Linked DNA regions of Homo sapiens: region 1 is linked to region 2. The links come from fine-mapping of genetic effects on gene expression. A gene starts in region 2. The other region holds a variant in brackets. All regions are shown on one strand. Distances are between the middles of the regions.

What was found.
Region 1: its variant is fine-mapped to the expression of EPS15L1 in whole blood (TOPMed, PIP above 0.99).

Annotation. Positions count from the first base shown.
Region 1 is chr19:16,348,691-16,364,519 of GRCh38, forward strand. It overlaps EPS15L1 (epidermal growth factor receptor pathway substrate 15 like 1), which reads right to left. Exons shown (of 24, transcript NM_001258374.3): 23 at 13,089-13,294; 24 at 6,557-7,161. The coding sequence ends at 7,015. Among named protein-coding and RNA genes, the nearest start is that of KLF2, 32 kb to the left of the region's middle. The variant G/A (reference allele first, on the strand shown) is at 8,253.
Region 2 is chr19:16,463,487-16,479,315 of GRCh38, forward strand. EPS15L1 (epidermal growth factor receptor pathway substrate 15 like 1) reads right to left here and starts at 8,484. Exons shown (of 24, transcript NM_001258374.3): 1 at 8,427-8,484. The coding sequence starts at 8,459. CALR3 (calreticulin 3) reads right to left here. Exons shown (of 9, transcript NM_145046.5): 9 at 15,575-15,788. The coding sequence ends at 15,645. RefSeq lists enhancers at 1,190-2,114, 7,662-8,573, 7,806-7,955 and silencers at 8,036-8,255, 8,316-8,715.

The DNA.
Region 1 (15,829 bases), 110 kb before region 2:
AAAAAAAAAATTTAATTACCTGGGCATGGTGGTGCACACCTGTAGTCCCAGCTACTTGGGAGGCTGAGGTGGGAGGATCACTTGAGCCCAGGAGGTTGAGGATGCAGTGAACTATGATCGCAACCACCGCACTTCAGCCTGGGTGACAGAGTAAGGCCCTTTCTCTAAAAATAAAGAAACAAAAATAAAATGAAAGTTGCCTCTTGTCTGCTGTATTGGAGGTTTCTGTATCTGCTGATTCAACCAACCCTAGATCGAAACTACTTGAAAAGGGGCCGGGGGCGGTGGCTCACGCTTGTAATCCCAGCACTTTGGGAGGCCAAGGCGGGTGGATCACCTGAGGTTGGGAGTTCGAGACCAGCCTGGCCAACACAGTGAAACCCCGTCTCTACTAAAAGTATAAAAATTAGCCAGGCATGGTGGCGGGTGCCTGTAATCCCAGCTACTTGGGAGGCCAAGGCAGGAGAATCACTTGAACCCAGGAGGCAGAGGTTACAGTGAGCGGAGATTGCGCCACTGCACTCCAGCCTGGGTGACAAGAGAGAGACTCTGTCTCAAAAAAAAAAAAAAGAGGCAGGGCGCGGTGGCTCACGCCTCTAATCCCAGCACTTTGGGAGGCCAAGGCAGGCAGATCACGAGGTCAGGAGATCGAGACCATCTTGGCCAACATGGTGAAACCCCATCTCTACTAAAATACAAAAAATTAGCCGGGCATGGTGGCAGGTGCCTGTAATCCCAGCTATTTGGGAGGCTGAGGCAGGGGAATCGCTTGAACCCAGGAGGTGGAGGTTGCAGTGAGCTGAGATCGCGCCACTGCACTCCAGCCTGGAGACAGAGCAAGGCTCCATCTCAAAAAAAAAAAAAAAAAAAAAGAGAGAGAGAGAGAGAAAGAAACCATTTGAAAAAAAACAATCAAAAGTTGCCTCTTATGTGAAAGATCTGATGGCTAGGAGGGGTCATTGTTCATTTTCTCAGACGTGACCTTGGCATCGAGTATACGTTAGCATGTCAGTCGCCACACGTCTCAGTGACGTGCGCTTCAGGGCACGTGGGCGAAATGGCATCCTGACTCCAACTTGCTCTAAAGTGCTTCTCCAGAGCAAAGGAAGACAGCCATGCGGCAAAGGTGGAAAATCTGGATGACAGTTGACGCTGGGTGGGGGTGTTTACTGTCCTTTTCTCTTCAACTATTATGTTTGGAAATTTTCATCATACATTTGTTCCAATTGGATACTCTATTCTTCAGGAAAGGGCGTGAGTGTCCTTTGCCGTGGAAGAGACTGCCAATGGGAGAGGGGATGGATTTGTGGATTTGATGTTGATTATTTACACAGCAGGGGAGTGTGTGTGTGTGTGTGTGTGTGTGTAGCAGGGAAGGAAGGAAACAGGATTTGAGACTGGCTTCTAACTTTTTAAAGGGTCTGAGGACCTCTTTAAAAATCAGATGGAGGCTGGGCACAGTGGCTCACACCTGTCATCAGCAGCACTTTGGGAGGCCGAAGCGGGAGGGTCACTTGGGGCCAGGAGTTGGAGATCAGCCTGGCCAACATAGTGAGACCCTGTTTCTATAAAAATAAAAATAAAATAAAAATTAAAAAAAATTAGCCAGGGCCGGGCACGGTGGCTCATGCCTGTAATCCCAGCACTTTGGGAGGCTGAGGTGGGCAGATCAAGAGGTCAGTAGATCGAGACCATCCTGGCTAACACGGTGAAACCCCGTCTCTACTAAAAATACAAAAAAATTTGCTGGGCGTGGTGGCGGGCGCCTGTAGTCCCAGCTACTCAGGAGGCTGAGGCAGGAGAATGGCGTGAACCCGGGAGGCGGAGCTTGCAGTGAGCCGAGATCGTGCCACTGCCCTCCAGACTGGGTGACAGAGCGAGACTCCGTCTCAAAAAAAAAAAAAAAAAAAAAAAAAAAAAAAATTAGCCGGATGTGGTCAGCTACTCAGGAGGCTGAGGCAGGAGGATCACTTGAGCCCAGGAGTTCAAGGCTGCAGTGGGCTATGATTGCGCCATGCACTCCAGCCTGGGTGAGAGAGCGAGACCCCCATCTCTTAAAAAAGGGGAAAAAAAAAGATAAAAAGTTATGAACACTGCAAACCCACATACAATAAAAAACAAACCAGGGCTGGGTGCGGTGGCTCATGCCTGTAATCCCAGCACTTTGGGAGTCTGAAGCAGGCGAATCACGAGGTCAAGAGATCGAGACCATCCTAGCCAACATGGTGAAACCTCATCTCTAATAAAAATACAAAAATTAGCCAGGCATGGCGGCGTGTGCCTGTAGTCCCAGCTACTTGGGAGGCTGAGGCAGGAGAATCACTTGAACCCAGGAGGTAGAGGTTGCAGTGAGCTGAGATCACGCCACTGCACTCCAGCCTGGTGACAAAGCAAGACTCCGATTCAAAAAAAAAAAAAAAAAAAAAAGAACAAAAACAAAAAACCAGCAAATGTGCATTCAGGGGTTCACTGCTTTCCCTAAAAACGTCCCCTCCCCTGGGTAAGAGCTCCTAATTCAATACATGGTTTTCCATTTCTAAGATATCAAGAGCCATCACCTGCCTCTTCTGGGTACGGTGAATATGCAAATAAGCAGAAGACAACAAGAAACTAGAAACCCTGAAGTTTTCTAAGAAACCCTCAATTCTTTTCTCAAATCAGCAAAACGAGCCTCCGCCCCTGGCTGGCTTCGGAGCTCTGGGCAAATGACTGCAGGGAATGAGTCTCAGTTTTCCCTCAGGAAAATGGGCTAACATCCACCCTCTTCATTTACAAGGTTGCTTTGAGTTTCCAACAAGATAATGGAAGCTGAATCGCTGTGAAAATTGTGAAGTCCCAAACCAAATGGTGCCAAAGCTGTGACTACCCTGGAGAGAGGTGACTCAGCGCCTTCTCCAAAGGGATCTATCACGGCAGAAGCACATGGCTTGGGACCTTCAGATTCACTCTGGGGTTTTCCTGCAGGAGGAAGGAAGTATTGGGAATTGCCTCCGGCCATGACCACTTTCAGGAAGCTGCTCGTTTTTGCAGAGAAGATTAGGGGCATCTCAGAGGTTACAAAGCCCACGAGGCCCCACCAGGCCCCAATCCACAAAGCAGGCCCATTCCATGGGCACCAAGAAGACGTCCCCTCCCAACACCCTCATCTCCAGGACTGCAGGGACCCCTCGAGGGTCTGTAACCTGGAAAAGGGGGATTACCAAAGGTTTGGAATCTTTACATTCGCCCAAATCCACCATAAACTTCAGTTTATGGTTTATAGATGACCCTTGAACAACACAGGTTTGAACTGGGTGGGTTCAGTCATATGTGGATTTTCTTTGTTTTGAGCCCGAGTCTCACTCTTGTTGCCCAGGCTGGAGTGCAGTGGTGCGATCTCAGCCCACTGCAACCTCCGCCTCCCGGGTTCAAGTGACTCTCCTGCCTCAGCCTCCCTAATAGCTAGGATTACAGGCATCTGCCACGACACCCAGCTAATTTTTGTATTTTTAGTAGAGACGGGGTTTTACCATGTTGGCCAGGCTGGTCTCGAACTCCTGACCTCAGGTGATCCACTCGCCTCAGCCTCCTGAAGTGCTGGAATTACAGGCATGAGCCACTGTGCCCTGCCTGTATGTGGATTTTCTTCCACCTCTGCCACCCCAAGACCAACCCTTCCTCCTCCTCCTCCTCGGGTTACTCAATGGGAAGATGATGAGGAAGAAGACCTTTATGATGATCCACTTCCACTTAATGGATGGCCAATATTTTTTCTCTTCCTTTTCCTGAGGATTTTCTTTTTTTGTTTTTGGAGATGGAGTCTCGCTCTGTTGCCCAGGCTAGACTGCAGTGGCACGATCTTGGCTCACTGCAACCTCTGCCTCCCAGGTTCAAGCGATCCTCCTTGTCTCAGCCTCCTGAGTAGCTGGGATTACAGGTGCCTGTCACCACGCCTGGCTAATTTTTTGTATTTTTAGTAGAGATGGGGTTTCACCACATTGGCCAGGCTGGTCTCGAATTCCTGGCCTCAAGTTATCCTCCCACCTCGGCCTCCCAAAGTGCTGGGATTACAGGCATGAGCCACTGCTCCTGGCCTTTTTTTTTTTTTTTTTTTTTTTTTTGAGACAGAGTCTTGCTCTGTCACCAGGTTGGAGTGCAGTGGCACGATCTCGGCTCATTGCAACTTCTGCCTCCCGGGTTCAAGCCACTCTCCTGCCTCAGCCTCCCGAGTAGCTGGGATTACAGGTGCCCACTACCATGCCCAGCTAATTTTTGTATTTTTAGTAGAGACGGGGTTTCACTGTGTTGGCCAGGATGGTCTCAATCTCCTGACCTCTTGATCCACCTGCCTTGGCCTCCCAAAGTGCTGGGATTACAGGCGTTAGCCACCACGCCCGGCCCTGTATTTTCAATCTCATGAATTACTGCCCTGAGACGAGTCTATGTAACAAAATATCTGAGGCTGAAAAACTGCTTTTTAAAAATAAATCTACCTGAGGCCAGGAGTTTGAGACTAGCCTGGCCAACATGGCAAAACCCCATCTCTACTAAAAATACAAAAAATTAGCCAGGCATGTTGCCTAATGCCTGTAATTCCAGCTACTTGGGAGGCTGAGACAGGAGAATTGCTTGAACTTGGGAGGTGGAGGCTGCAGCGAGCTGAGATCACACCATTGTACTCCAGCTTGGGTGACAAGAGTGAAACTCTGTCCCAAAATAAAATAAAATAATAAATAAAAATAAATCTATGTCCAGTGGATCCAGGTCAACACCAGCCTTCTAAGTCATGTTGATGACATGGATCTTTGATGTGATTTGATGTCAATACACTTCATCTCTGTGGTCTTCCTCCCCCAAGTCCAGCTCCACATCTAGTCACGGGAAAAACATCAGACAAATCCCAGTGGAGGGACATTCTACAAAGCACCTGACCAGTTCTCCTTGTAACTGTCATCAAAAACACACAACGTTTGAGAAACTCACACAGCCCAGAGAATTCTTTTTTTTTTCCTTGAGACAAGAGTCTCACTCTGTCGCCCAGGCTGGAGTGCAGCGGTGTGATCTCGGCTCACTGCAACCTCTGCCCCCCGGGTTCCAGCGATTCTCCTGCCTCAGCCTCCTGAGTAGCTGGGATTACAAGCGCCTGCCACTGCGCCCGGCTAATTTTTCTATTTTTAGTAGAGACGGGGTTCCACCCAGCCCAGAGAATTCTAACGAGATGTAAGGTCTGAATGTCATGGGGGATCCTGGGACAGAAAAAGGACATTAGGGGGAAAAACGAATTTTTTTTTTTTGACAGGGTCTTACTCTGTGGCCCAGACTGGAGTGCAGAGGTGCGATCTTGGCCCACCACAACCTCCACCTCCCAGGTTCAAGCGATTCTCCTGCGTCAGTCTCCCGAGTAGCTGGGATTACAGGCATGCTCCACTACCACCCGGCTATTTTTTGTGTATTTTTAGTAGAGACGGGGTTTCACCATGTTGGCCAGGCTGGTCTTGAACTCCTGACCTCAAATGATCCACCTGCCTCGGCCTCCCAAATGGCTGGGATTACAGGTGTGAGCCACCGTGCCCTACCTGCATTTTTTTTTTTAGACGGTGTCTTTCTTGTCGCCTGGGCCAGAGTGCAATGGCATGATATTGGCTCACTGCAACTCCACCTCCTGAGTTTCAAGTGATTCTCCTGCCTCAGCCTCTCGAGTAGCTGGGATTACAAGTGCGCACCACCACGCGCGGCTAATTTTTGTGTTGTTTTTTTTTAGTAGAGACAGGGTTTCACTATGTTGGCCAGGCTGGTCCCCAACTCCTGACCTCAAGTGATCCCCCCCACCTCGGCCTCCCAAAGTGCTGGAATTACAGGCATGAGCCACCGCACTCAGCCAAAAAAACAGAGCAATTCTGAATAAAGTAAGGACTCTAGTTAATAATAATGAATCCGTATTGGTTCATTAATTGGGATGTAAGTAATGTGTAATGTAAGATGTTAAAAATAAGGTAAACTCTCTAAGGGGCTTATGGGAACCCTTCGTATTTTCTTTGCGATCTTTCTGCAAATTTAAAACTGGCCAGGCACAGTGGCACATGTCTGTAATCCCAGCCCTTTGGGAGGCTGAAGTGGGAGGATCACTTGAGCCCGGGGAAGTGGAGGTTGCAGTGAGCTGAGATCACACCACTGCACTCCACCCTGGGTGACAGAGCTCAGACCCTGTTTCAAAAAAAAATTTTTTTTAAGGATAAATTGTCTAAGGGGCTTATGGGAACTCTTTGTATCTTTGTGATTTTTCTGCAGGTTTAAAACTGTCCTAAAAAATAAAGTTGGTTAAAACATAAAAATGGGCAGGGCTTGGTGGCTCACGCCTGTAATCCCAGCACTTTGGGATGCTGAGACAGGAGAATTGTGTGAGTCAAGGAGTTTGAGACCAGCCTGGGCAACATGGCAAGATCTCATCTCTTAAAAAAAAATTTTTTTTAAAAGTAAAAACTTAAGATTTAAAGAGCAATGTTCCACCTGGTTGATCTGCTTCCTGATACCCATGCAGGGAAAACAATGTTTACAGAGATTAAAGAAGCTTCTCTTGTTTTGTATTAAAATATTTTATATTAATCATTCAAACTTCATTTTATACAACGAGTGCATACACCACTGGGGGAGTGTCTGACTGATGCGTGGGAGGGCGGGTGGGGATGTCTGCAGCTATGAGTAGGGAGGAGGCGGGGAAGCCCTGGGTGCTTCCTCTCCTCGACTGACCGCTGTGTGTTCGTCCCCAGAGGAAGAGCGGGAGGCAGTCAGCCCCGGGGGGGATGGCACAGTGGAGAGACGGACCTGCAGAAGTGGTGGCCAAGGCCTCTGTAAGGGCTTCCCCAGGAGATGTGACCTTTCCAGGTCTTGCAGCCGAGTCTGCTCACCCTGAACAAGCCCCCGAGTCCCGGTCCTTGGAGTACGGTGGCGACGGTGTGTGTGTGTATATATAGACATCTGCACTGCCCCCTCTCTGGAACCCGCCCGTGCCCTGTCCCGCCTACACACGGCCCTCGCCTAGGCGGCAGGCATGTCAGCCTTGCTGAGCGCGATGGCCAGTTCCAGGTCCTCCTGCTCCTGCCGCCGCAGCCGCGCCAGCCTCTCCTGTTCCGCCTTCTCGCTCTCCCGCTTGGCCCACGCCAGCTGCTGCTCCTCATTGCCAAACTGCAAAGGAAAAACGGAGAGTGGGTGATGTGGCCCTGGGGCTGGGACCTGCAAGCTGGAGGGAGGCAGGGAATGCGTGGGAGGGGTCAGGGTCCTGCCCACCGCCCAGCGGAGGGTCCGATGTGCAGGGGATAAGCATGTCTTGGCTGGGCCCAGTGGGCGTGCGAGCCTGTCTCAGGCCCCCCATCTGGAAAGCAGAGTGGACGGGATGCATGTGATTGAGTGTGACCTTAACCATGACCTCTGGGCCTCAAAGAAACCAGCCACCCCGCCCCACGCAGAGAAGTGAGGATGGGCCCTTGACGCTGGTGGCCAAGAGGTGCAAAGATGGGGAACTTCCAGCGTGCATGGCTCTAAAGCCCCACGGCGCAGACAATTCTGCACTCTGGGAATGTGGTATTTCTACCTCCAGCCATGCTCCAGAGAGCTCTGAGACCCTCTGAGGGTCATTTTCTTTTTCTTTTTCTTTTTTTTTTTTTGAGATGGAGTCTCGCTCTGTCGCCAGGCTGGAGTGCAATGGCGCGATCTCGGCTCATTGCAACATTCACCTCCCAGGTTCAAGGGATTCTCTTGCCTCAGCCCCCTGAGTAGCTGGGATTACAGGCATGCGCTACCATGCCCAGCTAATTTTTGTATGTTTCGTAGAGACGGGGTTTCACCATGTTGGTCAGGCTGGTCTTGAACTCCTGACCTTGTGATCCACCCGCCTCAGCCTCCCAAAGTGCTGGGATTACAGGCGTGAGCCACCGCACCCGGCTCTGAGGGTCAATTTCTCCCAGAACACTGACAAAAGGTGTGGCACTTACACTGCCATTTAGTCAAGTTTTTATCCGTGGGGTGTTTTTCTAAAATGTTCAGTTAAAATAAAAACTTAAAAAAGGGAGAAAACCATCTTGATGCTGAGATAGGTGATTTCAAACAACTCAAAGTACTTTAGTCATGAAAAGAAAAGCCACATCCCACAAGCTCCTCCCCCAGGGTGGGTCCCAATGTCCCAGACTTCCCTGAGAGGTCACTGGCATCATCGGCCCCCTCAGGAAAGCTGCTGCTGCTTAGGGATTCAAAGGATTCCCTTATTAATGTCTCTCTGC[G/A]ATGCACTGCCTCTGACCAGCTCTCTGCTCAACACTGGAGTAACACCAAAGATAACATGCGCAGTGGCTCTTCCCCAGGCACCCTTGGGAGCAGAAATATACAAACAATCCCAGAACGATCCAGGACCCAAGGACCCAGGCTCTCGAGGAGGGCCCTGCAGACTAACCCAGGAAGGTGGGGGAAAGAAGCACACAGGAACACTCACGGCCTCTCCACCACACGCAGCACTAGGTCTGCGTGACAACCTGGGGGTGGGCCCGCTGTCATCTCATCCCTCTGACAGCTGGGGACACTGAGGCCAGGGAAGGGGTGGCTCACACTCTAGACTTTTTCCCCCCCAGGCCTGTGGGGAGCAGGATACTAGGTGAAACTGACAGGGAGGATGCGTCCCTGCGAGGTTCTGGGTGTGAGGCTCAGTGCCCGACCTTGGGGTAGCCAGGATGAAGCGTGGGGTGGGATAAGCCAGACTGAGGAGGGGCTCGTGGGCCCCAGGAAGGAGCTGGGATTTCCCCGTGGAGGCTCCTTGGGCGAGCGAGTTGGGTGATCAGATTGGCAGCGTCTGGATATTTCACGGCTTGATGGTGGCATGAGCGGGAAGCAGGAGAGAGGAGGGCCAGATGGCAGGGCTGGGGGGACTGGGCAAGGTGCAGGAGCAGATAAATGCAAGGAACCTGGTTGGGAGGCAGATGTGGCAGTGAGGGGGATGCGGGGCCCTGGAGGCCTCCCTCTAGCTGGCCTCAGGACCCAGATGGGGGACAGGCGGAGTGTCAGTATCAAGAAAAGATGTCCCTGGGAGGAAGGGCTGAGTCTTGACTTCTTAAAGAGGCACTGCCCAGCTAAACACTTGGGGGTCTGATGAGTCTCCAGGTCGGACTCCCTCCCCGCCATTGTGTCACTGCCAGGGGCACAGATAAGCATCCCCCCCGCCCCAGTTTGGGGAATTTTCCAACACCTCATGGGGAGAAAAACAAGGAAAAACCAACAAGTGCAGGTGGAAATTATTCCATGGTGCTGCTGACAACAGTGGGAGGGAGACAGTGCAGCTGACGGGGACCTCACCCTCCACCAGCCTTGAGGACAGGGTGGGTGGGAGCTGACAGTAATGTTCGCCTGGATCCAAATCAAAGCCTGGAACGACCAAGTAACCGGCCTGCTGGGTCTGAACCACAGCCCTCTGGCCGCCTTTGGCCCCACTGAGCCCCCGTGTCACAGTGTCACTGAAGCGCCTTCCCTTGACGGGTCTGTGTTTCCAAATGAAAGGTGTCAGCAGGAAAGTTCCTGGTGCCTTCAGAGTCGACCGGTTCAAGGCCAGCTCACGAATCCACTGTGGAGACTTGCATTGGTGAGGTCTGTATGCACTTAGGAGGCACGCTGGGCTGTGAGGCCTGGGAGAGCTCTCCTGAAAGGGGACTCCGCAGCTCCCTCTGTGTCTGCTGTCTTAGCCCTGGACGGGGCCACCTTCTAGTTCTCGTATCTGGGTGGGTCACACGGGCCAGAATCTGGATGTCTGTGGCCGATGCAAAACCAATAGTGGCTGGGAAACACACTGGCTCTGATTTCTGCTTCCCTCTGGCATTACCATGGAACCGAGACACCGTAGGGGCATGACACCACCCTAGCCGAGGCCTGCCCACTCAGGATGGGGTTCATTTTCAGAAGCAAATAAGTGGTTCATTTCAGCAGCCTCTTGGAAATCCGCAGTTTAGACAGCTCGGCACGCTGGGCGATGGGATGGCCCCGGGAGGCGCCCGGCACCTGTCCTCACTGGCGCTCCAAGGTGTCTGATGGCACTTCCACCCCACCATGTGCAGGACATGCCTAGCCACTTCCCATTCATTCATTTACCGACAATGAAATTGTATCCAACTCCTTCAATAATTCGAAGCACGGCCTAGCTGATCTGGTATTTGCACTACTCTTAATGCGAACTTCCAAAAGAACCGTTCCGCTAACCTAGAAATGCCACTTCCTAATACACACATTTGCCTGAGACAGAAAGGCCTGCTTTTAAAGAAATACCAGAGAGGGAAGAGGTTTCCCGGGAACAGCCACACACGCAAATAACCCATTGATGGAAATTTGGGGTTTGTAAATTAGAGGGTTCTGGAGAGGCACCGCCGGGGCACCACCTCCACAAGTGAGGTGCGGGTGACCTGGGCCCCCCTGACTGCCAGCATGGACTGGGCTGCTCCTGCACAGGTAAAAACATGCCCTGAACAGCAGTCTCAGAACGTCCACGCTGAAAGAGTCACGCTGCCAATCTGCCGGGCAGTCAGACAGCCCTCTTGGCATTTGCTCAGGGAAGTGGAATCATTCAAACCAGAGGAAGCAGCTGTGCCCTCTTCTAAGTTAGCACAAATAGTCAAGATCCAGTGAACCCAGAAACCACCAGCTGATCGGCTGAGCCCCCGAATGCCGTGAACATGGAGAGACGTCATCTTGAGTCCCCAGAGGAGAGCTGGTTATGGATGATTTTAGACAATGATACGACCCAAGGGGACAAACAAAAACAATTAAGGGTCCTGTCTTCACTCAACCCATCCCTTCAGAGTGGCTGAAGTACACTATCTGATCATTTCCTCTGGAAAAAAACTGGGGTATTTGCAGTGGGAAAAGTGATTTTAAACAGAAAACAGGCCGGGCACAGGGGCTCATGCCTGTAATCCCAACACTTTGGGAGCCTGAGGCAGAAGGATCATTTGAGCCCAGAGTTCAAAGACCAGACTGGGTAGTAAAGTGAGACCTTGTCTCTATCAGAACATTTTAAAATTAGCCAGATGTGGTGGTGCGCGCCTGAGGTCCCAGCTACGTGGGAGGCTGAGGTGGGACGATTGCTTGAGCCCAGGAGGTCAAGGCTGCAGTGAAGCTGTGACTGCACCACTGCATTCTAGCCTGGGCAACAGAGCGAGACTCATCTCCAAATATGTAAAAACCAAAAACTTAGGGAAAAAAAAAAAAAAAACAGAAAACAACAGGGCTGCATCCAGGCCTGGGTGGAATTTGCTTTCCCACCAGGAGATGAGGGTGATAAAATGGCTGGCGCTATTTTAAAACTGAAGTTAACAATTGTTCTGGAACTACCAGAAATGCTAAGCCAAATGATACCTTGAAACCTTGGGTGTTTTTTTTTTTTTTATGCTTTTCGAAAAAACGAGCCCTTTGCGGGTTGGGGTCACAGGAAATAGAATTATGAATTTCAGAAAGAGAACAGTCATTTCTTCAAGCTGCCGTTCACCCCACTTACCTAACTCTTCCCTACCCAAGACAGAGTACCTGAGTCATGTGTGAAGAGTTCTGTTTTTTTTAAATCAGCGTTTAATATTTTTCCACCAGAAAATAAATGAAGGGCTATTCAAGAAACTCTAGATAAAGCAGGTTTTGTTTCTGGCTTTTATTAACAATGTCACCATTTTGTATAGACCCCCAGTGCGCATCTAGGGTCAACAAAATCAAACTCACTGCCGTTGTAAAATATTTATAGGTCACCAAGAGCCAGAAACAGGTCAGGGTCTTGGGCGATTTAAATAAGCCACATGGGCCAGTCACGTGTAACCCCAGTACTTCAAGGTGGGAGGATCGCTTGAGGCCAGGAGTTCCAGACCAGCCCAGGCAACACAGCAAGACCCTACCTCTACAAAAAAAAAAAATTAAACATTAGCCTTGCGTGGTGTTGCACGCCTGTCGTCCCAGCTACTCAGGAGGCCAAGACAGGAGGATCGCTTGAGCCCAGGAATTCGAGGTTACAAGTGAGCTCTGATCGCGCCAATGCAGACCAGGCTGGGCAACACAGCGAGACCCTGTCACTAAAATAAATAAATTGACAAATAAGCCATAGGATAGCTGTGCACGGTAGAGATTATCAAGACGGCTCAGAAACAAATCGGGTGCTTTCTGTGCATTGACATGGCAGGGCTGTGTTCAAAGAGCCATCCCAGGAGTCGAAGCATCTATAAATAACACATCTCACACCTAATGATGAAGGAACTAACAAGCCCAAAGGAAGAAAGCGAGGGCATCACACATAGTGAAACCAATTCTGGGAAGACAACACCTGAAGCTTTCAGAGAACAAGATTTTCATGTATCAAGGAAGCTGCTAAAAACTCCTTGAAGCGACGGCATGTTACAATCTGGAATATTTTTTCACACAGAGAAAAACAAAGCCAGGCTTTCGAAATCCCGAGATTTGCTTCCGAAAAGGCACTTAACTTTGCTCAACAGTTTTTTGGAGCTCTTTTTGTTTTGGCTTTCAGAGTGGCTGTTCTAGACTGGATTTCTTTTTTCATTGGAGCTGGTAACTGAAATTTAAAAGCTTTAAAAAAAAAAAACTTCAAATTGCTCTTCCCTGGCGCGATCTGCCTGAAGTCCTTCAATTTGCACTTGTGGCACAAAATGCATGGGGCGGGACTGTGAGAACTTGTGCACAAAGGGCTTTTTGGGGACAGCAGAACCCTAATGTAACTTTCGCAATCTTCTTTTCATACTTCGGAAGTGTTTGACATCTTGGCTTCCAAAAACCAGTGAACACAACAGCCTCGGTGCGTCAGAAATAATACAATGAATCTACCGTGAAGGACAGATAGGTCCCGCCTCCCTGCTGGAAGAAAACGTGCCCTTATGATAGAGCATCCAAACTGCGGCTCTTTTTTTTTTTATTGAGAAACTGTTTTTCTTACAGAAGTGGCAGTGTAGAATAAATAACGCGAGGGACAGAGAGTGTGAGGTACCAAGAGGCTAAAGAAGCTGGGAGGTTTGCCTTTAAAAGGAGACAAAAATCCCAGGGAAGCTGCAAGCGGAAGGGAGTGGGGTGGCCCGGAGGCGGAGGACTCAACTTACAGAGGTGAAGTCTGCAAAGCCCGAGGCAGAGGCCTTAGAAGGTTTAGCTGCAGAGGAGGGGACAAATGGGTCTTTTCCACTAAACGGGTCCCCAAACCCCTTTTTACTTTGGAACGGGTCGCCGCTGTCAGCCCCGAGTGGCTGGAATGGATCGGGGGCCTCGGGAAAGTCTGCGGAACCAAGCTGGCTTACAGGTGTACTTTTACCTGGAAAGTTTAGGAGAAAAAAAAAAGGAGAAAGAAAGAAATATGAGTTACTCACCCGGACAGAGCAGAATGCTGGTGGGCACAAGCCCGGGGCGCTTCTCTGAGAAAAGCTTGTAACTTGGCTAACAGGCTGGACGGGGGTACCCTGGGGAATCCCAGTTTTAATCAGCTTTATCCCAGGGGCTTAACGGGTTGTGAACAACACAGGAAAAACACTTCAGATGACTCCCATACACAACGCACACAGAGCAGCTAAAACTTGAGTTGTCCTAGAATAGTTTGCATGCAGGTACGTTTCAAACAGATTCATTTTAGCATGGCAACACATTTATTAACATACTAATTTAAAAAATCATGGCTGAGCAGAAAAATACACTGCAAGCTTCTAACAGTAAAAAAAAAAAAAGGCAGAGGGGAGAGTTACTTGCAAATGAAAAGGAGGAATTAGTTTCACAACGTGGTATGGTTATTCGGTGTGTTAGTTATAAGGGTCTGCACACAGCTCTGCCATGCTGAGGTTTAAGTTCTTTTTTTTTTTTTTTTTTTTTTTTTTTTCAGAGACAGAGTCTTGCTCTGTCACCTGGGCTGAAATGCAGTGGTGCAATCATGGCTTATTGCGGCCTTGGCCTCCAGGGCTCAAGCGATCCTCCCACCTCAGCCTCCTACAGGCATGAGCCACCATGCGTGGCTAATTTTTGTATTTTTAGTAGAGATGGGATTTTGCCATGTTGCCCAGGCTAGCCTCAAACTCCTGCCCTCAAGTCATCTGCCCGCCTCAGCCTCCCAAAGTGCTGGGATTACAGGCATGAGCCACTGCACCTGGCCTTAAGTTCTTTTTTAGCCCCCACTTCTGTCCCTCTGGTGTTGGTGGCTCCAAGGGGCAGCGTTTATCTGGGCCTTTCTGGGCTTCTGCCAAGCAGGGAACTCCAGGATGCCCGGTCCCAGCAAGGTATATCTTGACAGGGAGGTGAGAGAGAAGTGTTCAGAAATGGAGGAAAATGACACTGTGTGGGGGACATGGCCTGAGGATGGTAGCTTTTCCCAGTGCATCCTGCCAATGTACCAGAACATTCCACCAAGAAGCAGAGGCCTGTTAAGATCTGCTTGGTGACGGGAGGTCCCACCTGACGGGCCTTCCAGCATCTGCAGTTTGCAGGCCAGCCGGGCTGACTCCATGCTCCTGACACCCCTCTATCTGCCCAACGGAGTCCCTGGGCATTCAACGTGGTCCACGCAGCACCCCAGACTGGAAGCTCAATAATATGCAACACGATTCCGGCGTGTTAACTCTGGAAGTTTCGAAGCTAATGTTTAGAAAAAACCAGGAACTGCCTGTCCCTCCAGGGTTGACCTTGGATCTCTGGCTGCACCTCCAGAGAGCACCCTGGCTCCCAGCCACACCTGCCCCGCCCACCACCTGAGCCTGGGACACCTGCCTTCCTCATCCGGTAGAACGAGCCCACACAGGCCAGCCTCGGTCCCTCTCCATGCCCAGATCTAAAGCCTTTCCCTCTGTTCCCCCAGCAGATCAGCCATCCCAGGCCTCATTTTTGAGGCCCCAGGTGTCCTTGTGGGCTCCGGGGCTACAGCCCCCATCTGCCACCTTTAGCTCTGGGCCTCGGCAAGGGAAAGTGCCTCCTCCCAGCTGGCCTCCGTTTCCTTATCTGTGAAGTGGAAATGAGAAGGAGGGCGCCAAACAAGGTGACATTCCTGGGGTCCAGGAGTCTCCTCCCACTCAGTGTCCTGCACCGCCGTGCCCAGCATAGGCCAGTGAGAACCTGGCCCGTAGCCCCCCCTTGCCTGTAGCCCTACTTCTGGAAATGGAAATTCACTTTTCTCTCAACCGGCAGTTCTGGGCCAGCATAAGGACTGCTGCTTTCTTTTTGCATATTCAAGGAAAAACAGTCTTCCTTCCCACGGTTTGCACAGAAGGACTCGGAGACAAACTCCCCTGCAGCCCACCCTTGCGGCCTGCCTGTCCGCCTCTGCCCGTCCCACAGGGTTCCACCGGGGTCGCCGTTGCATCCTTAGCTGACCTCTGGCCACCAGCTGCGGGAGATCCTTCCAGACTCCTTGTCTGTGTGAGTCCATCTAAGAGGCTCCTCCTCAGGGTTGGAGGGCGAGCTGTCCTGGGCTCTATTAGGACTCACATGGATGAGAAAGAGGGGAGGTCGAGGCCTGGTATCAGTCTCCTCCTGTGGCCTCAAATCAATTCACTGTCAGACCCAAGGCCCAGTTAGCAGAGGGGGCCCTGCAATCTGGAAGGGGCCTATCTTTGCCAAAACTTGTGGGCAAGCCATGCTGGAGACCCTTCCCTAGAGGGGCAGTGCCCAGCCCACGCGGGCAGGACAGGAATGTGGCCCCTCTCCTTCCGACAGCGCCTGCCCTCTCAGGGCAGTCCCCACACCCGAGCTTTCTAGGTGTCTCCCTTTTTCTATCCCCAGATGTCCCTCCCACCTTCAGCTCTACTGCGGCCTCCTCCTACCCCGACCTCCCCGGGGCTGCAGAGAGCAGGGTGATCTGGCCCAGCCCGCA
Region 2 (15,829 bases):
TCCAAGCACTCCCTGTGTAAGCAGCCAGATCATCTAAAGGTGTCACTCCTCAAGAACCTGCCATAGCTCCCTACTGCCTCTCATAATGTGGCCCATGCTACTCTTCCCTCAACAGATGATTGTTGAGCACCTGAGTGCCAGCTGCAGCCTGGCAAACAAGGATGAATAAAACAGGCACAGTCTCTGCCCTTGTGGACCTAGTCTAGGTGGTTGGGGAAGACAGACCATCAATCAACCCCGCAAAGAGAAAATTATAAACGGCTAAATGGAAAAGGTGTCCATCTCCACCAGTGGTAACAGAGATGCTGGGCCAGTTTGTCAGGAAAGGCTTCCCTGAGGAAGTGATGCCCCAGCTGATATGAAAAGGTGTAGGGATTCACCAGAGGATGAAGGGTTTGGAAAGAGCATTCCAGAGAGAGGGAATAGCAGATGCAAACGCCTTGAGGCAAGATGAAGGATCGCCTGCGCAGATGACAGAAAGAGGGGCCAGGGGGCCACAGAGCAGAGGGAATGAGGACTGCAGGCCTGGGAAACACGGGGAGCAGGTGTGCTGTCAGCTGCCGGTAGCAGCGCCTGATCCAGCCTGGCTGGTGTGCCCAAGAGGAGGAGAAGTGACTTTATGTCAGCCTGACCTGCAGGCAGTCAGTAAACAGATTCTGTTATCAGGTCTACATTCCACACCACAGGCAGTGCAGATGGAAATCCGAGACAAATGTCTGTGGTCATCTGTGACCTTTACTTTCACCCCAAAGCTTGTAGTATCAAGAGCTGGGACTCCTATGAAGGGAAAAGCCCAAAGAAGCTTTAAGAGCTAATGGTCTGCACTCCATGCAGGAGCAAACTTCAGGGCCACCACTCTGACCAGCGGTAAAACCCAGTCCAGCGCGAAGGACAGTGGGCAGGTCTCAGCTCCTCAGCCCCCACCAGCCACTGGCCACTCTCTCGGCAAGCAGACATCCTGTCAGTTCGGCCGATTTGTAGCCCAGACACAAACTCTCACGTCTTATTTACCAAAAGACCTTCCTCCTCTCATCCCTGAGCTGCCTAAATTAAAGGAAGGACATGAACCCCAAAGTCCCAGCCGCATGTTTTGGCCCTTTGACCTAGACCTGCAGCCTCTCAGCTCTGGCTCAGTCCTCTTTGCCTCCGTGTGAAAGGCTATTCCCCATGGCCTAGACCAGGGGTGTCCAATCTTTTGGCTTCCCTGGGCCACACTAGAATTGTCTTGGGCCACACATAAAATACACTAACACTAACACTAACACTAACACTAACACTAACACTAATGATAGCTGATGAGCTTTAAAAAATTCACGGGTGGGCATGGTGGCTCACGCCTGTAATCCCAGCACTTTGGGAGGCCAAGGCGGGCAGATCACAAGGTCAGATCGAGACCATCCTGCCTAACCAGTGAAACCCCGTCTCTACTAAAAATACAAAAAATTAGCCAGGTGTGGTGGCGGGTGCCTGTAGTCCCAGCTACGCAGGAGGCTGAGGCAGTAGAATGGCATGAACCCAGGAGGCGGAGCTTGCAGTGAGCCGAAATTGCACCACTGCACTCCAGCCTGGGCAACAGAGCGAGACTTAGTCTCAAAAAAAAAAAAAAAATTCACAAGAAAACCTCATAATGTTTTAGGAAAGTTTACAAATTTGTGTTGGGCTGCATTCAAAGCCATCCTGGGCCACATGCAGCCATGGGTTGGACAAGCTTGGCCTACACCAAACACGCCCTCTCCTCCATACAACCATGTCCAACACCCAAATGGAAGCCAGTCATCTGCCCCTCCTGCAGCTTGGACCACCCGTGACCTGAGCCTCTGCTGTGGGCCGGGCCTGGACAACTCAATTCTGCATGGGCCAGGAGCACTGATTACCACTCTGGCAGGGAAACCTTTGGATTCTCCTAAAGACAACTGGCTGGGAGTGGTGGCTCACACCTGTAATCTCAGCGCTTTGGAGGCAGAGGCAGGAGGATCACTTGAGGTCAGGAGTTCGAAACCAGCCTGGGCAACATAGCAAGATCCTGTCTCTACAAAAAAATTAAAAATTAGCCAGGTGTGGTGTTGCATGCCTGTAGTCTCAGTTCCTTGAGAGGCTGAGGTGGGAGGCTCACTTGAGGCCAAGAGTCGAGGCTGCAATGAGCTTTGATTGCACCACTGTACTCCAGCGTAGGCAATAGAGCAAGAGCCTGTCTCTAAAGGAAAAAGGAAGACAATAAGCAGGCCTTTCCATGTCCCTCTCTACCTTTTAATGAGATGAGATTAAAGTAATAAAATAAAAACTCAGACTACATGATATCTAATAACTAGGTATAAAAACAAATGAGGTTAGGAGATGTCATAAACTTAAAAACAAACAAACAAAAAAATAACTTTCCAAGACAAGAAACTATGGTGCAATGAAGAGGCCTGAACCTGTGTCAGAAAAGCCATGTCTGCCTGAGCTCACTGGGTACAAACTTGGGCAAGGGACGTAACAATCTCTGGCCTCACTTTATCTATTTTTTTTTTTTTTTTTTTTGAGACAGAGTCTTGCTCTGTCACCCAGGCTGGAGTACAGTGGTGCAATCTCGGCTCACTGCAACCTCCACCTCTCAGGTCCAAGCAATTCTCCTGCCTCAGCCTCCTGAGGAGCTGGGACTACAGGCATGTGCCACCACGCCTGGCTAATTTTTGTATTTTAGTAGAGACAGGGTTTCAGCATGTTGGCCAGGCTGGTCTTGAACTCTCGACCTCCAGTGATCTGCCCTTCCTGGCCTCCAGTGATCTGCCCCTCTTGCCCCTATACACTGAAGATAATACTGGCCAGAGTGACCGGGAGGATGAACCAGGCAATCTATGATGTTTTCTTTACTCAGTCCTTCCAGCCTGGTGGTGAGACCTTTCCTGACCTCCATCATCAGATCGGAACCTGCCCTGCTCTACTCATCTCACAGCATCAATCCCCACCGAATGCACTACACATTGGGCTCATTTCTTTATATCTGGGCCCCTCCCAACGATGTCAGCCCCGTGAGGCGGCACTGCCTTCAGATTCACTGTTCCATCCACTGCCCAGAAAGTGTCCAGCAAAAAGAAGATGCCAAATAAATACTCACTGAACGAACAGTGTGATCTACAAAAGGCAGGCATGAGGGCCAGGCGCGGTGCCTCCTGCCTGTAATCCCAGCACTTTGGGAGGCTGAGGCAGACAGATCACTTGAGGTCAGGAGTTCGAGACCAGCCTAGGCAACATAGTGAAACTCCATCTCTACTAAAAATACAAAAATTAGCTGGGTGTGGTAGTGGGCGCCTGTAATCCCAGCTACTCAGGAGGCTGAGACAGGAGAATCGCTTGAATCCAGGAGGCAGAGGTTGCAGTGAGCCAAGACAGCGCCATTGCACTCCATCCTGGGTGACAAGAGTGAAACTCTGTCTCAAAAAAAAAAAAAAAAGGAAAGCACTGAGAGCACATGCGTCACACGGCAGGGTCCTGACACTCTACTGTGACAAAGCAGGTCAAGCGAGTCCACAGTACCATTCTGCAGATGAGAAAACTAAGGTACAGAAAGTATTTGCAGGACTGAGGGCAGTGAAGGAATATCTGGGAATCCAAACAAACATCTAAGGACCTAAACATTGAAAAGCAGGCACCACTGCACCTGATGGTGCCTGCTTTTCTTTTCTTTTTTTTTTTTTTGAGACGTAGTGTCACTTTGTTGCCCAGGCTGGAGTGTGCAGTGGAGTGATCTTGGCTCACTGCAACCTCCGCCTCCTGGGTTCAAGTGATTCTCCTGCCTCAGGGTCCCGAGTGGCCGGGATTACAGGCGTCCGCCAGGACGCCAGGCTAATGTTTTGTATTTTTAGTAGAGATGAGGTTTCACCATGTTGGCCAGGCTGGTCTCAAACTCCTGACCTCAGGTGATCCACCTGCCTCAGCCTCCCAAAGTGCTAGGATTACAGGCGTCAGCCACTGCACCCGGCCTGGAAAGTTGTTTTAAAGTTCAGAATGGAGGTGGAGGGGTCTTGCCCAGGGAGAATCTATTTAGTCGAAAAAACAACAACAACAACAAAAACAAAAAAAAAACAGGCCAGTGCAGGTCAATAAGTGACAGTCAGGGAATTCTGGATCTTTCAGGAGTGGATTTTACTCTAAAACTTCGTTCTCATCAATTTAGACTGCATTGCCATTAGCATTCTACTAAGATAGACTAGCACTTATTTCAGAGGAAGAAAAGAAACAAGGGACAAGAGGACAAGTAAGTGTCCGAGCCACTCAGCATTCATTCCAGACACACTGGCCGGGTGCTGCTCTGGGAGAGGTGCCCAGCAGGCCATCTGGAACAGCAGGGCTCTGCGGCAGGAGGACGCAGGTGTGACCTCAGCTCTGCGCCCACCAACTATGAGACTTCAGCAAGTTACTCTATTTCTGTGGGTCTTGGTTTCCTCACTTGTAAAAGGGGAATAAAAGCCTCCTAGAATGGAGGCACCTACTGAAATACAGCAAAAGCTCCTGGATGAAGAACACATAACAAGGGGGAAAGGAGGAAGGTGTAGCTCTTTGGGCCCAGGGCAGTCTCTCCTCATCACTGAGCCCAGTTACCACGCGCTTCCTAGGTACAGCGGTCACAAAAGGGACCCACGGAAGGTACAAGGGAGAGAACTCTCATTCGGGTGGGGCTAAGGGAGGACAACACAGGGGAGGCCTCAAAGACCGTCCTTCAGGGCAGGCAGCATACGGCAGGAGCTCACAGTGATGTTCTAGCAACCGGAGCAACACAGCTAAGGATGCTGAGGCTAGAAAGTGTTGCCAAGAGCCAGAAGTGCAGGAAAGGGACCCAGCAAGGTTAGGTGGAGTCGATTCAGGGCTTACTAAGGTCATCAAAGCTGACTTTTTTTGAGACTGAGTCTCACCCTGTTGCCCAGGCTGGGGTGCAGTGGCGCGATCTCAGCTCACTGCAACCTCCGCCGCCTGGTTTCAAGCGATTCTTGTGCCTCAGCCTCCCAAGTTGCTGGGATTATAGGCGTTTGCCACTATGCCTGGCTAACTTTTGTATTTTTAGTACAGACAGGGTTTTGCTATGTTGGCCAGGCTGGTCTCGAGCTCCTGGCCTCAAGCAATCCATCCACCTCAGCCTCCTAAAGTGCTGGGATTATAGGCATGAGCCACAGCGCCCAGCCATAAACTGAGTTCTTTTGGAGGAAGGGGAATGGGAGCTGTGAAAGGTTTTTGGAACAGGGGAATATGTTTTAGAAGATGAATCCTAGCCAGATGCAGTGGCTGACACCGTAATTCCAATACTTTAGGAGGCTGAGATAGAAGGATTGCTTGAGGCTAGGGGTTTAAGACCTGCCTAGGCAGCATAGCAAGACTTCATCTCTTCAAAAAAAAAATTGTTTAATTAGCTGGGTATGATTGGTGCTGCGCTCCTGTAGTCCCAGCTACTTGAGAGGCCAAGGTGGGAGAATTGCTTGAGCCCAGGAGTTTGAGGTTGCAGTGAGCTATGATCCTACCACTGCACTCCAGCCTGGGGGACAGAGCGAGACCCTGTCTCAAAAATCAAAAAGATGACTTCCACAGTGGCGTGGGATTAAGTGGGAGGGAGTGGGCAAGTAGGAAGTAGAATGGCCCAGACCACTTTGGGGCATGGCAAGGAAATGGCCCATTCCAGAGTCCAGCAGGCTGGCAGAGGTGCAGGAGAGAGACACCTTCTGGACTCTAGAAGGCAGGTTTGAAGTCCTCTGCACAGAAGCTCCAGGGGAGGGAGCGCACAGAGAGATAAGATGCAGGTAGGGAGGCTGAAATTAGGGGACAAGAAGGAGAGACTGAAAGGAGAGAGGATGAAGAGTGAAGACCGACGGGCTCCAGTGTTGCGGAGTTCGAGGAGGATCGGCTGCAGCCACAGGGCACCGGGGTTAAGGACGGAGGGGCCACCGGTAACCTCGGGGAGTACAAGGAGGAAAGAGATCTGGATGCATTTCCACGGAAGGCTTTTTGGAAAGCAGAAGAGAGCTGAGCAGGGGGACAGGGAGACACACAAATCACTGAGATGCTGTTGGGAAAAAAAAATCACTCCTAAAGAGGCAGAGGTGCAGACCTTTCGAATTTACGTTGATATTCAGGGTCAGAAAAGAGTATATAAGGAAGGAGATTCTGAGATGATGTCATGGAGTACAGAACAGACTGAAAAAGATGCTGATGGGAAAAGTGCAGACAGGAGTGGGGGTGGAGAAAACACACCCCTCCTCCCCTAGGCTAGCCCGCTGGGTTATCCACTTTGCTCACCTTCACCTGGCCATCTGCTTGCCAAGTGTGCTCTGTCACCTAAATCCAACCAGATCACAGCCACCTGCTGCAGGGTGCTTCCCTTTTGCCCCCAACCAAAAATTTTGGAATTATACCCTTGGTTCCCCCAGAGTTATCTGTGAACCCAAGTGATCTCCTGAGCTAGACAGTAAGGGCCTGGGAGGGCCATGCCTCACACCTGGGCCAACAGTAACCCATGGTGTAGATTTTCACTCGAGAGCAAGTGTAAAGAAGTGCTGACATTTCCAAACGAAGAAAACCAGGCCACGCCTTCATTCAACAAATGTATAGGGAAAGGAACAGGAAGAGGCTAAGAAGTCAGTGACCTGGCCAGGCGCAGTGGCTAACGCCTGTAATCCCAGCACTTTGGGAGGCCAAGGCGGGTGGATCACTCGAGTTCAGGAGTTTGACACGAGCCTCGCCAAAATGGTGAAACCCCGTCTCCACTAAAAAAAAAATACAAAAATTAGCCGGGTGTGGTAGCACGTGCCTGTAGTCCCAGCTACTCAGGAGGCTGAGGCAGGAGAATCACTTGAACTCGGGAGGCGGAGGTTACAGTGAGCTGAGATCATGCCACTGCACTCCACCCTGGGTGACAGAGCAATACTCCATCTCAAAAAAAAAAAAATTGGACAGGAAGTTTTAGAAAGATCCACGCCTCCCAAACTGGGAGTGCTTAGTGCTTTCTCATGAAATGATCTTAGGTGATTTTCCCCCGACTCCCGCCTTCCCCGCCCCCCACCCCCTGACTACATACTCTAAACTGTAGCACTTAGCTATTAACACCTATTATCGGTAGGACACTTAACAGTTTACAGAGCACTTTCATGTCAGTAACAAGAACTTGCTAATTAATAATCACCGGGTTTTAGCACTGTTAACTTAGTGACAGTGTTGCAAATTGGCTAGCTGTGCACTTCTCTCTCCTTGGATCAGCTAACCAGTCATGCAAGCATGCAACCGGCCTATCAACTCTCTTTGGGTTTGGAATTCTTAATTGCTGCGGTCTCTACTCCCAAACGTCCAAATCTGGCAGAGATTAAATGATGACAGTAATTATAGGATCACTGAGTGCCTCTCATATGCTAGGCACTGTTCTAAGCGCTTTTTCACGTGCTTAATTTTCACATAATCCCAACACATTTTTATATCTCCATTTTCCAAAGGAAGCAACTGATGGGTGGAATGGCTAAGAGCTTCAACCAAAGGCACAGAGAAATCGGGGCTGGAGCCAAGATTTGAACACATGATCTGACCCTGTGTCCTCACTCTTAATCACCATGCTGTGCTAGATCATTCTAGCAAAATGCTTATATGGTGCTTTGCACAACACAGGTATTCAGCAAATAAAGGCAGCTGTGATTAGCATAACACAGGTAGTTTCTAGTTCCCACGAGTGTCACCTCCAGGAAAGCAGCGACCTTGTCTGTCTGGAAGAATGCAGCGCTCCCAGCACCTGACCCAACGCACATTTGAGGGATGGATAGAAAATGAATGAATGAAAGTCTCTCCCAAATAACAGAGCTGCCTACGCATGGCTCTTTTTCGCATGTCTGTGTCGCGCTATCGATACTGCCCCTTCATAAGCGCATCAGGCGAATTTGAGGACACAGAGAGGCGCCCGGAGACGTACGATCTGCGCCCGGTGCAGGGGTGGCGGAAGCAGCTTCCAAGGAGGCAGGGGATCAGTCTGAGATCGCACTGCTGCTGACGGGTCCGGGCTCCGGCGGGACCCTGCCCGCCCGGGCGCCGGGACCGGAGGGAGACAAAGACTCGCTGGGCCGCCGCGCCGACAGAAACGCTCGCACCCCTCGCCCACCCCTCCGGGATGCAGCCCAGCGCCTCCGCGGGTCCCCGGCCTGGGAGCTTCAGCGGCGGCAGGGTCCGGGCCCTGGGCGGAGAGGACACGCGCTGCGCACCTCCTCGCCTCGCCGGTGCCCGCGAGGGTCGCTCGGGCACGGGAGGCCGCGGGTCCCGGCCTGTCACCTTCAGGGCCGCCTGCCCACCCGCCCGCCGCAAGCCCTTCAGCACGCGCCGCCCCCGCCGCCGCCTGGCTGAGTCTCCCAGCGCCTCAGCCTCGCCGCACCGCTCGCCTCGCGCCCCGCACCCCGGCGCCGCCCCCAGGCCCGCCCGGCCCGTACCTGCTGGGAGAGGGGGATGAGCGGCGCCGCCATCTTCCCGCGGACTCGGGCTCCGAGCGCCGGGGGAACGGGGGCGGGGCTGCAGCCACGCGTGCGCACTGGGACGACGGGAGGGCGGTGCGCAGGCCGCCTGTCCCGGGAGAGGGCGGGGCCGTAGACAGGGCCACGCATGTGCAGTCAGGCCGGGAGGGGCGGGGGCAGGGGCGGGGCCGCCCACACGCAGCCTGGAGGGGCTGGGCCTGAGGCATCTGCGTCTTCCGTGCTCTCTTGCCCGTTCCCCTACTCCTCCTTCCAACGTTGTTCGGACTCTCATGCCGCTGGCCGCTGTCCGAGTCGACCATGCTGTGTCATCCCTCCAGCCCATGCCGAGGCCTGGTTCTCTGTTAGGGATGCCGTCCCCCTGCCAGTGCGCCTGGGGAGGCGGTCGCCCACCCCGCGGAGGGTCGGGACCCTCACCCTGCCCCGCAAAGCGCCCTGTTCCTAGGATCGCAGTGTGTGTGTGTGTGTGTGTGTGTGTGTGTGCGCGCTAATTTGGGGGACCCGCACCCTGCCCCCCTCACCCTGCCCCGCAAGGCGTCCTCCTGGCTGTGGTGGCGGGCACCTGAAATCCAAGCTACTCAGGAGACTGAGGCAGGAGAATTGCTTGAGCCCAGGAAGCAGAGGTTTCAGTGAGCCAAGATCACACCATTGCAATCCAGCCTGGGCAACAGAAGCGAAACTCTGTCTCAAAAATAAATAAATAAATAAGACAAGAACCCACTTGTTGCCAGGTACAGTGGCTTACACCTGTAATCCCAGCACTTTGGGAGGCCGAGGTGGGAGGGTCATGAGGTCAGGAGTTGGAGACCAGCCTGGCCAGTATGGTGAAACATCAATATGGTGAAACCCCATCTCTACTAAAAAAAATACAAAAATTAGCAGGTGTGGTGGTGCATGCCTGTAGTCCCAGCTACTCAGGAGGCTGAGGCCAGAGAATCACTTGAACCCGGGAGGTGGAGGTTGCGGTGAGCCAAGATTGCACCACTGCACTCCAGCCTGGGTGACAGAGTGAGACTCTGTCTCAAAACAAAGTCAAAAACAAAAAGAACCCACTTGTAACTGTTGCTAATCAAAGCATACATTCAGGGCAACTTGAATCTGTGTCTCCTGGACTGCGGTCCTCAACCTTGGCCCAAACTCTCTACTTATATTAACTTTGCCTCAGCTTCTTTTGTTACATCAATAGAGTAATGAAGGTTTTTAACAGTCTTGAGTGCTTTATCAGTACGTATTCCATAAGGAAAAGAGAAGTCCTTCTAGGTACTTCAAACAGAGGATATTGAATACAGGGGATTGAGCCAGGCTCTGTGGCTCACACTTGTAATCCCAGCAATCCAGTTGAGACAGGTAGATTGATACCAGCCTGGCCAACATGGAGAAACCCCATCTTTACTAAAAATACAAAAATTAACCCAGTGCAGTGGCAGGTGCCTGTAATCCCAGCTACTCAGGAGGCTGAGGCAGGAGAATTGCTTGAACCTGGGAGGGGAAGGTTGCAATAAGCTGAGAACTCACCATTGCACTCCAACCTAGGTGACAGAGCGAGACTCTGTCTAAAAAATAAATAAATAAAAATAAATGAATACATAAACGACTACAGGGGACTGAGTATAAAAGTGTTGGAAGTACTGGAAGAACAAAAGAGGAAGGTAAGTTTACCTAAAGATTCATAACTATATGAGGCTGCTAGCCTCTCTAGAGCTGAAAGATTAAAGCAGGGGAGGTGGCTGGGCATAGTGGCTCACGCCTGTAATCCCAGCACTTTGGGAGGCCGAGGTGGATGGATCACCTGAGGTCAGAAGTTTGAGACCAGCCTGGCCAACATGATGAAATCCCGTGTCTACTAAAAATACAAAAATTAGCCGGTTGTGGTGGTGGGCACCTGTAATCCCAGCTACTCGGGAGGCTGAGGCAGGAGAATCACTTGAACCTGGGAGGCGGAGGTTGCAGTGAGCTGAGATCACGCCACTGCACTCCAGTTTGGGCAACAAGAGCGAAACTCCGTCTCAAAATAAATAAATAAATAAAGCACAGGAGGACCCATAACCCACAATCACTGTGCCTACAGAAGGATCCCAGATGTGTTCACCCTTGCTAGCCACAGTTGCCTCCACCATGATTGCGAAAGTCACAGTTGTTGTTGTCACCACCACCTAAGCCACTGGCAGAAGTCTGAAAAAATGGTTTCTCCCCTCTTTCTGCCTCCCAACTTTGTTCTAATAAAGCATGACAGGAACGTTGCCAATTGGCAACGGCGTCCAGGAAATGTAGCATGCAGGCTTTAAGTGCCAGTATCAGAGTCTAGAATGGTGGTGGCCATAGAAACTCTCCAGCATCATCTTGTAAAAATAATCCAAACTTGGCTGGGCGCGGTGGCCCACACCTGTAATTCCAGCCCTTTGGAGGGCCGAGGCAGGCAGTTCACGAGGTCAGGAATTCGAGACCAGCCTGGCCAACACAGTGAAACCCCATCTCTACTAAAAATACAAGAATTAGCCAGGCGTGGTGGCGGGTGCCTGTAATCCCAGCTACTCGGGAGGCTGAGGCAGGAGAATTGCTTGAACCTGGGATGGGGAGGTTGCAGTGAGCCAAGATCGCACCATTGCACTCCAGCCTGGGCAACAAGAGCAAAACTCCGTCTCAGAAGAAAAAAAAGAAAAAAAAAAAGGCCGGGCATGGTGGCTCACGCCTGAAATCCCAACACTTTGGAAGGCCGAGGCAGGCAGATCATGAGGTCAGGAGATCGAGACCATCCTGGCCAACATGGTGAAACCCCATCTCTACTAAAAATACGAAAATTTAGCCGGGCATGGTGGGGGGTGCCTGTAGTCCCAGCTACTTGTGAGGCTGAGGCAGGAGAATGGCATGAACTCAGGAGGCGGGTCTTGCAGTGAGCCGAGATCGCGCCACTGCACTCCAGCCTGGGCAACACAGAAACTTCGTCTCAAAAAAAAAAAAAAAAATCCAAACTTAATCATACACTTTTGAACCCTAAGAATTATGTTGAGCCTTGAAGAAAACGGGACTGTGTGATCTGAGCCAGACAGCATGTAACTACAACTTCTGCTTATAGATTATAGATTAACTCTCCTGTTCTTGCTCTGTAGATTCATTTCAAGACTAAATGGCATCAGCGTTAAGATCGCCCTTCTTCATTGCTGACCTTTCCTCTATTATCTTGCACCTAAATCAGACCAGATAGTGCAAAAGGTCCTGTGACTGTTATGTCCTCTATGTGAATGTTAAATATACCCTTCCCAAAAAGACCACTGCCTTGACTAATCAGATTACTGTTAACTATGTACTTGCCTTGTGTGAAATATGTAGAAACGCTGTCAAGCTTCCCAAACCTTACCTATATAAATGACCCCCAAACTTCCTCAGTTTGGAATGCTGATTTCCATTCTTTGGAATCTGTGTTCCAGGGTGGCCGTCCTCAAACTTTTGTGCTAAACTAAACTCTATATTTAACCATATTTCCTGAATTTATTTATTTAGGGTTGATGTTTTGATGATCCAGATGGGATCTGAAGTGGAGTTCCAGTGATCCCTGCCACTTCTCACAATCAGACCCTTTGTACTGTTACCGCAAAGGGGTCTTGATCCAGACCCCGAGAGGGTTCTTGGATCTCACCCAAGAAAGAATTAGTGCGAGTCCATACAGTAAAGTGAAAGCAAGTTTATTAGGAAAGTAAAGGAATAAAGGAATGGCTACTTCATAGAGCAGCCCCAAGGGCTGCTGGTTGCTTTTTTTTTTTGGGAGAAGTTTCACTGTTGTTGCCAGGGCTGGAGTGCAATGACGGGATCTCAGCTCACCACAACCTCCACCTCCTGGGTTCAAGTGGTTCTCCTGCCTCAGCCTCCTGAATAGCTGGGATTAGAGACATGCACCACCACGCCCAGCTAATTTTGTATTTTTAGTAGATGTGGGGTTTCTCCATGTTGGTTAGGCTGGTCTTGAACTCCCAACCTCAAGTGATCCGCCTGCCTCGGCCTCTCAAAGTGCTGGAATTACAGGCTTGAGCCACTGTGCCTGGCCAGGTTGCTCATTTTTATGGTTATTTCTTGATGATATGCTAGACAAGGGGTGGATTATTCATGCCTTCCCTTTTTACTTATTTATGTATTTATTTATTTATTTTTTGAGACGGAGTCTCGCTCTGTCACCCAGGCTGGAGTGCAGTGGCGCGATCTCGGCTCACTGCAAGCTCCGCCTCCCGGGTTCACGCCATTCTCCTGCCTCAGCCTCCCGAGTAGTTGAGACTACAGGCACCCACCACCACGCCCGGCTAATTTTTTTGTATTTTTAGTAGAGACAGGGTTTCACTGTGTTAGCCAGGATGGTCTCGATCTCCTGACCTCGTGATCCACCCATCTCAGCCTTCCAAAGTGCTGGGATTACAGGCGTGAGCCACCGCGCCCGGCCCCCTTTTCAGGCTGCCATATACAGTAACTTCCTGATGTTGCCATGACCTTTGTAAACTGCCATGGCGCTGGTGGGAGTGTAGCAGTGAGGACCACCAGAGGTCACTCCCATCACTATCTTGGTTTTGGTGGGTTTTAGCCGGCTTCTTTACTGCAACCTGTTTTATCAGCAAGGTCTTTAGTGCTGACCTCCTATCTCATCATGTGGCTAAGAATGCCTTAACCGCCTGGGAATGCAGCCCAGTAGGTCTCAGCCTTATTTTACTAAGCCCCTATTCAAGATGGAGTTGCTCTGGCAGCTACCTGATTTATGAATTGTTCTTTGCTCAGTTACACTCCATGAAATTTAATATGTCCAGAGTTTTTCCTCTAACAAAGTTTAAAGTGAAGTTAACTAGAATGAAATAAGATTAAAAAGTCATTTCTTGGTCCCACTAGCCACATTTCAAGAGCTCAATAGCAACACGTGACCCGGCATGGTAGCTCACGCCTGTGATCCCAGCACTTTGGGAGGCTGAGGCACGCAGATCACTTGAGGTCAGGAGTTCCAGACCAGCCTGGCCAACATGGCGAAACCCCATCTCTACTAAAAATACAAAATTCAGATGGGCATGGCGCATGCCTGTAATCCCAGCTACTTGGGAGGCTAAGGCATGAGAATCGCTTGAACCCAGGAGGCAGAGGTTGCAGTGAGCCATACTTGCGCCACTGAACTCCAGCCTGGGCAACAGAGCAAGATTCTGTCTCAAAAACAAACAAACAAAAAAAGCAACATGTGACAAATTCTCTCGGACAACGCTGCTCCCAACGAATCTTCAGAGCCTGAGCCAGTCTCACTCACCGTTTTTTGTCTTGTTAGCTCCACTTTATTTTATTTTTAGAGAGGGGGTCTCGCTCTGTCACTCAGGCTGGAGTGCAGTGGCACGATCATAGCCCACTGCAGCCTTGACCTCTTGGACTCAAGCGATCCTCCCATCTCAGCCTCCCAAGTAGCTGGGACCACAGTCATGTACCTCCATGCCCAGCTAATTACAAAAAAAATTTTTTTTAGAGACAAGGTCTCTATGTTGCCCAAGCTGGTCTCAAACTCCTGGTCTTAAGTGACCCTCCCTCCTTGACCCCCCAGATAGCTGGGATTACAGGCACAAGCCACTACACCTGGCCTGACTCACCTTTGTACACTAATTGGTACCAGCACTTTCTCTCCAGGTCTGCCTCTGATTCTTTTCACACTACTCACCCTGTTCAGAGGTGAAAGAGGTAGGCAATGTTTGCCACCCTTGCATTAGGAGGAAGGGAGTCTTTAGTTTCTCAGAGTAATAATCAATCCCTAATAATTGGTGAAGGTTGATGTAGCCACCATCAGAAAAAATCCAGGTGCAAAGGTCTGCCAACATTGACCAGAGTGAGAGCAAAATTCTGCAGAACTTCACTTCCCAGCCAGGCTTTTGAAACTGATCAACTTTCTTTTTTTTCTTTTCTTCTTTCTTTCTCTTTTTTTTTTTTTTTTTTCTGAGGTAGGGTCTCATTCTGTCACACAGGCTGGAGTGCAGTGGCACAATCTCAGCTCACTGCAATCTCCACCTCCCAAGCTCAGGTGATCCTCCCATCTCAGCCTCCCGAATAGCTGGGACCACGGGTGTGCACCGCCAAACCCAGCTAATTTTTAGTATTTTTTGTAGAGGCAGAGTTTCGCCACATTGCCCAGGCTGGTCTTGAACTCCTGGACTCAAGCAATTTACACACCTCAGTCTCCCAAAGTGCTGGGATTACAGGTGTGAGCTACTGCACCCGGCCCACACTGGTCAACTCTCAATATTCTGTATATAAATTCCAATTTATTTGGCTTATTCATAACATCACTAGATTCCAAATTTCTGGTGTCACAAATTTGATTATTTTCATCATGAGTTTCAGTATGATTATGGGCCTCTTCCAGAAGAAGACTGGGCCAGGAGCAGTGGCTCACACCTGTAAGCCCAGAGCTTTGAGAGGCCAAGGTGGGAGGATGGCTTGAGTCCAGGAGTTCAGGACCAGCCTGGGCAACATGTGAGACTCCCATCCCTATAAAAATTAAATTAAAAAACAAAAAATATGGCTGGCTGCAGTGGTTCATGCCTATAATCCCAGCACTTTGGGAGACCAAGGCAGGCGGATCACGAGGTCAAGAGATCAAGACCATCCTGGCTAACACAGTGAAACCCCATCTCTACTTAAAATACAAAAAGTTAACCGGGTGTGGTGGCGGGCGCCTGTAGTCCCAGCTACTCAGGAGGTTGAGGCTGCCTCCAGCCTCAGCCTGAAGTACCTGGGACTACAGGTGCGCACCACCACATCCAGCTCCTTTTTGTATTTTTAGTAGAGACGGGTTTTCACTGTGTTGGCCAGGCTGGTCTTGAACTCTGGGCTCAAGTGATCCGCCCACCTCAGCCTCCCAAAGTGATGGGATTATAGGCGTGAGGCACACTGCCTGGTCAACTTTTATTTTATAAAAAGACTTTTGGGAGTTAAGAAAAGGGGATCATGGTTTTGGCCAGACCCTTGCTGGCCTCTGGCTTCCAGTGTGTAAAATTGTCAAGAGGGAACTTCTCAGTGCAAGGGGGTCACCAGGGGAGATACAACCTACCCCACCCAGAAGCATGAAACACTGTTCAAAGAAAATTGGACAAAGTGCCATGTAGACATTTGAGTTTGAAACATAGATTAAAGTAGCAATGAGATTTTACCAGTCATCCTTATATCCAATGGGGATCACTAAAGTTCATTCCTTCTGTGAAATTGATTGAAGTAATGTTCGTGCCTGTTAATTTTTCCCGACAGCAGCTCTTCCTCCTCTTCCTCGCGGGCCTTCTTCATTTCCTCCTTGGCCTGTATGGCATCCATCTCCCTTTCTGGACCCTGGAGAAAGAAAGAAAAAACATAAGCCCCACCGGGTGCGA